Regions from separate parts of the Homo sapiens genome. Here region 1 is linked to region 2. Evidence: fine-mapped expression QTL. A gene starts in region 2. The other region holds a variant in brackets. All regions are shown on one strand. Distances are from middle to middle.

Region 1 (2,905 bases), 46 kb after region 2:
AAGGTGGGCAGCAAACCCAGAGGAGCATGCGCTCAGCCCTACAAGCCCCCGGCGCGCTGCAGCCTGCAGAACGGCCTGCCGTCCACACGCGGACACACGATTCCGCACCGCCTGTGGGGAAGTACTCGTGCGTACTGATTCACATCATGCATGGGGGCGCAGGAGGACACGCTGACTCACTGCACACGAGGACACATGCGCACATGCTCTGACCCACACCTCCTGACACTGACACACAGACACTCAGCCTGGGAGGCCCACACCTGCACACATGCAGAGGCACAATCACACATGCACACAGGTGCAGCGCACACACACCCACTTGGTGGCTGCTCGGCTATACAGGATAGTATCACGTGGCCAGGACTCCCATCCCAGACCCCTCTGAGGGCTGTGGAGAGGTCTGGAGCAGACATCTGGATTGAGCCCCTTGAGGAGGCGCCGGTGTGATGGAAGTCAATGAACACAGCTCCCGAGGGAGGCAGGATGGGATGGCGGGTACCCTGGGTCCCCCAGGACCTGGTCAGTGGAGGTGGGAAGAAAGCACTGTGCCTCAGTTTCCCCACCTGTAATGGGGATAGAGTCCTGTGAAAGTTAAATGTGCTAAAACATGTAAAGCTCATCATTTGGCGCAGGGATGAGAGTGGAGGTGTCTTGATTTTCTTGTCGGGCACCCTGCGGGGGGGCCCCAGGAAGAGGGGCACTGAGTATTCATTTGACCCTTCTCAGGGTCTGTCATAATCCTCCAGGGCCTTCCTCAGGGGGGCAGCTGTCACCACTCTAACTTCCTCCCTCTCTATACTTTTATAGGAATGCATAGAGGCATTTCCCTCAAGCTTTTCCTCTTTCCTGCCCATTCTTCAAGCACCTCTAGTGCAGACAACCTGGTTAAGTCTAGGTCTGCCTCACCCCTCTTTCTTCCTTTCTGCCTCACAAGAAGAAAGTATCTCTTTTTTTCTCCAGGACTACCTATAAATTGGGTGGAAAGAAAAATATTGAGCATGCATACCACCACTGGTTGGTCTCCTGCCTGTGGCAGACATCACTAATCCATCACAGCACTCTCTCAAGCTTAGCAGAGTCCTCAGTACAGCTCTCCAAGCAGCCTCTATCAATCAGTATAGCCAGTTTGCTACCCCAGGTCTATATAATGCCCAGTCTGGCCCAGTGGGTAACCCTGCTCTTGCTGAGTGTTTGGTCTAGGAGTTAGACAGAGGGTACTCCAGGAAGGGAAGGATTTAGATCTCAGCTGCCCTAAAATTTCTGGAGCCCCTTAAATACCACATAGCCCTAGATTACAAAAGTCAGTCTTGCTCCTGGGAAGAGCACTGTGAGTGGGGTGTCACTGTGGGACTGTTATTTATTTACCCATCAGTGAGCCTGGGGGACAGTCCCGAGGTAGTCTCCAGCTTCTCTCTAACTGCAGGCCTCCTGCGAGAACCCAGGGTAGCAGAGTTCCCACGAACCCTGAGCGTGGGAGCCACCCGGCCCCCTTTTGATGTGGGACACGCTGTTTCCTCCGAGTCAGTGAGAACATCCT[CCTG/G]CCTGGACAAGCGACCGCTGCCTGCGGGCCTCCCGGAAGGGGAGCCAGCCTTCACCCCTAGCTCTGCCTTCTTGGGGGCCCAGGCTGGCACAGGACCTGAGGAGTCCCTCAGGCCCTCCCCGAAATCTACTCTGACCAGAAGGCAGGCATGGGCCCCACTGCCATGCAAGCCTCTCTGCCTTTCCCAGTCCCAAATCAGATCCCATCTGTCCTCTGCTCTCACTCCTCCTGCAGCTCCCACTTTGCTCACAGTTAACACCTGGCCTCCTGATCTGGCCCCCATCTACCCTCTGAACCTCATTTCCTATGTGTTCACCCCTCTCCCACTCCACTCCAGCCACCCTGGTCTCTCTGCTCTTTCTCAAGCATGCCAGGCACACTCCCACCCCAGGGCCTTTGCACTTGCTGACCCTTTCCCAAGGTGCTCTTCCCAGATATCCTCATGGCACACTCCCTCACTTAGCACAGGTCTCTGCTCAAATGTCAGCTTATCTGAGACACCTTCCCGACCACTTTATTTAGTTATTTATTTATAGACAAGATCTTGCTCTGTTGTCCTGGCTAGAGTGCAGTGGCTTAACCATTGCTTACTGCAGTCTTGAACTCCTGGGCTCAAGCGATCTTCCCACCTCAGCCTCTTGAGTAGCTGGGACTACTGGCACACACCACCACACCCAGCTTAAACAACAACAACAACAACAACAACAAAACTTTTGAGGAGACAGGGCCTCGCTGTGTTGCCCAGGCTGGTCTGGACCTGACCTCCTGGGCTCAAGTAGTCCTCCCTCCTCGACCTCCCAAAGTGCTGGGTTTACAGGCATAAGCCACTGTGCCTGGCCGCAACCACTTTATTTTTAAAAAGCCCATCTTTGTCCTTACCTTACTGAATTCTTTTTTCATAGCACTAATCACGACCTGACATTATAGTCTTTTTTTAAAATTATACTTTAAGTTCTAGGGTACATGTGCACAACGTGCAGGTTTGTTAAATATGTATACATGTGCCATGCTGGTGTGCTGCGCCCATTAACTCATCATTTACATTAGATATATCTCCTAATGTTATCCCTCTTTAAGCATGACCAGGCCCTGTATGATCTGGTCCACGCCGCCTCTTCTGCCAGACAAAGTTAGAGCAGGAATGTCAAATATATGAGTGCATACCACTACTGTCCTCCTAGCACCCACAGCAGGCATTACTAATCAATTTCGGCATGCCTTACCGCTAAGCCAAGATGCAACTTCAGAATCCTCCTCAACACAGTGCTCCAGGAAGTCACTGCCCTGGAGCAGAGATGGCACATGAGATGAACTCTATTTGTCATTTATTTTGCAGATGATGGGACTGAAGCCCAGAGAAGG
Region 2 (2,905 bases):
GAAGCAGACCATTGGGCTGCTGACGGATCCAGGAAGGGCACTCCTGGTCTCACCGGTCTGGGCGTTGGCTCCCGCACTCAGTCTGCAGGGGCACTCCCATTGGTGCCTGGCCTTTCTAAGAGGTCTTGGGCAGGTCAACAATGAATTCACAGGGAGAAATAAGTGTGCGAACGGATCTGTTCTGGGACAGGCCCTGCCTGTCATATTATCTCATTTAAAATCAGAAAAATGTACAAACCTGGAGCCACTGGAGCAGAGAGAAAGGAAAGAAAATCTCTACCGGAGTGGAAGGGCATCCTGGAAGCCTTCCCAGGAGAGGTGACGCGTGGCCCACGCCTCAAAGGACAACAATCAGAATATCAAACACTTTCTGGACGTGTATTAGGTACTTGTCACTGTCCTGAGACTTTTATCTTCATTAACTCTTTTAATTCTTTCAAAATCCTGTGACTGAAATGCAATGTCATCCTCACTCAACAGATGAGAAAACCAAACCAAAGCACAGAGAGGTTGAATGGCTTACCCAAGTCCAGACAGCTACCAAATGGCAGAGCCAGGATTCGAACCCCTGGAAGGCAAATCAGTTACTGACTGTGAGACCTCTGCCAAGTTATTTAATCCCTCTGAACCTCAGTTTCTTTATCCATAAACTGCGGATAATGGGGTAACAGTGGAGTAGTGTGTAGTGCACATCTGGAGACAAAAATGAGCTAATCCCAGTAAAGCGCTTAGAACAGTGCCTGGCACCCATGAAGTGTTCAAACAACTGTAGATGACTTTTTATCATCGCTGTAGTGGTTATCTTCAAGCCTTCCCCTCCCCCATCTGGCCGCGGCTTCCTCCCCCGCAGTGCCAGCCCGTGACGTTAGAGCAGAGTCTGGGTTCTGTGTTTAACTGGAAACTAGAACGAGATGGAAGGGGATGTTCAAGGCCCCTCCCTTGACTCTGAACGGACCCCCAGGGAACATGCGACCCTCTCTCTGGCGACGCCTCCCACCCACCACTAATACTTGCTCCTGGACCGGGGGGCGCGGAGGTTGGAGAGAGGAGGCAGGTGTCTGCATGGTAGGCAAGGAGGGGTGGGGGCGGAGAGGTGTGAATATGTTGGATGAGGGACAGGCGGGGGCACAGACCATGTCTTTTAAGCCCAATGCCAACTCACCAGGAGCCAGCGGCCACGCCCATCAGGACGGGGGCCCCTCCCCACCTGGCGGTGCACCCTTGTCTCCGCCGCCCGTGCGCTCTGGCGCGCATGACTGGGGTGCCGGTAGAGGGCGCGCGAGGGGGCCCGGGGTCAGGTGGGGGACCCCATTGGAGGCGGGATTGTGGGGAGGTCCCTGGGCCGCCCCTCCCGCCCCCTGCCCGCCCAGCCTGCTTGTCTGGAGCTCCAGACGCCTCGGCAAGAGCCCGCTGCGCCCCCTGCGCGCTCCTCCTGCTCGGAGCACGGCTCCTACCTGTAGAGTCCGGACGGGCGCTCCCTCCCCGGGCACCTACACCTTCTCCTCTTTCGGAAATCTCCCATCCAGCTACCCGGGTCTCGGACAGGCGGCACTGGGACCACGAGGCAGGGAGCCAGGCTTGAAGCAGGTGACATGTAGACGTCCCCTGGTCCAGCCTCGGAACCTGAGCGCCCTTCTGCCTGGAAAGTTTGTGGCTAGGCGCCATGGCCAAGAGCAGCTCCCTGAATGTTCGCGTGGTGGAGGGCCGCGCGCTGCCTGCCAAGGACGTGTGAGTACTCCTCGGGCGCTTCTGGGTGAGGGGCGCGCAAGGCCTGGGGTGGGGCCGACGTCGCCCTTTCCGCGTGCCAGGGCGGGTTGGCAGGAGGGCGAGGGGTTCTTGTCCAAGACTGGTCTTGGGGCAGTTCCGCTTTAAAGGGGCGAGAGGCCGCATGCCCATGGCTGTCCCGGTGGGAGGGGGGCGCCTAGAGTTAGCAGATGCCCCGCCTCACCCCCGGGCAGGGGAGGGGGTGTCTTTGTTCCCGGGATGTACTAAAGGGGGTCGTCCAGAGCTGAAGAGGGGATTAGAGGGCCATATTCTGTCAGATCTGGGAGGGGAGAAAGCGGGGGGTCTCTTCCTTAGTCCAGGCAGATGTTGGAGGTGGCTCCTCCAGGCGTGGGTGGGGGCCTAGCAAGGGAACCCTGGGGAGGACCCTTGGAGAGGGCCTGGGATCAGATGAGCCCTAACATCCTGTGTGGATCTGGTGCTTAGGTTTGCAGAGTGTCACCAGGTGGCCCTCCAGGGTCCTTTTGACCCCAAGCCCTGAGCTCCCCAGTCTTGTGGCTCCCAGCCTCGTGTGGGCCTTCCCCGGGTGCTGAGCTGCTTGAAGAGCCAATTCCTTGCTGCGACCCCCTCCCCAGCCAGGTGCAATGGGACTGGGGGACCCTACGGCTCCCTTCACTACTAGTCCCAAGCTATGCTTCCCCCAGGGCTGAGTCAGCAGCTGCTGAATCAGCAGAATATGGGGGGCGGGTTCCCCCTCCTGCTTGGCATAGTGCCCAGAAGGGGCTCTGAGGGCCTTAGCACCTGCGACAGGTGTGGGATCCTCTGGAGGACATTTGTTGTGTGACCTTGAACCTGCTTCTCTCTGGGCCTTGGTTTCCCATTTGGGCAATGAGAGCTCTGGACCGGAGTCCCCATCTGGTTGCCTGGGGTCTCCCATCCAGCTGGGAGGGTGGAGGACCTGTTAGGAGTTCCCCTGTGGCCCAGGTGAGCAGGAGCATGGATTGGGAGCCTTCACCTGTGTCAAGATTCAGTCTTAGCTCTGTGCTGATTCCCCAAGGTGTGGGCTCCCAGAGAGGACTTTCCTGCCTGATTTTATGACATTCCCAACCCCCAAAACACTGCAGCTGCGTCAAGGGGGCAGCTGTTGAGAGCAATTTTTGCCACCCTTCATCCTCATTGGCTA

The links. PIP is the estimated chance that this variant, and not a neighbour inherited with it, causes the effect.
Region 1: its variant is fine-mapped to the expression of RASAL1 in whole blood (TOPMed, PIP above 0.99).

What each region holds. Positions count from the first base shown.
Region 1 is chr12:113,088,186-113,091,090 of GRCh38, reverse strand. All of the region lies in intron 3 of DTX1 (deltex E3 ubiquitin ligase 1), which reads right to left. Among named protein-coding and RNA genes, the nearest start is that of DTX1, 33 kb to the right of the region's middle. The variant CCTG/G (reference allele first, on the strand shown) is at 1,541.
Region 2 is chr12:113,134,221-113,137,125 of GRCh38, reverse strand. It overlaps RASAL1 (RAS protein activator like 1), which reads left to right and starts at 1,365. Exons shown (of 21, transcript NM_001301202.2): 1 at 1,365-1,728. The coding sequence starts at 1,664. RefSeq lists a silencer at 1,239-1,378.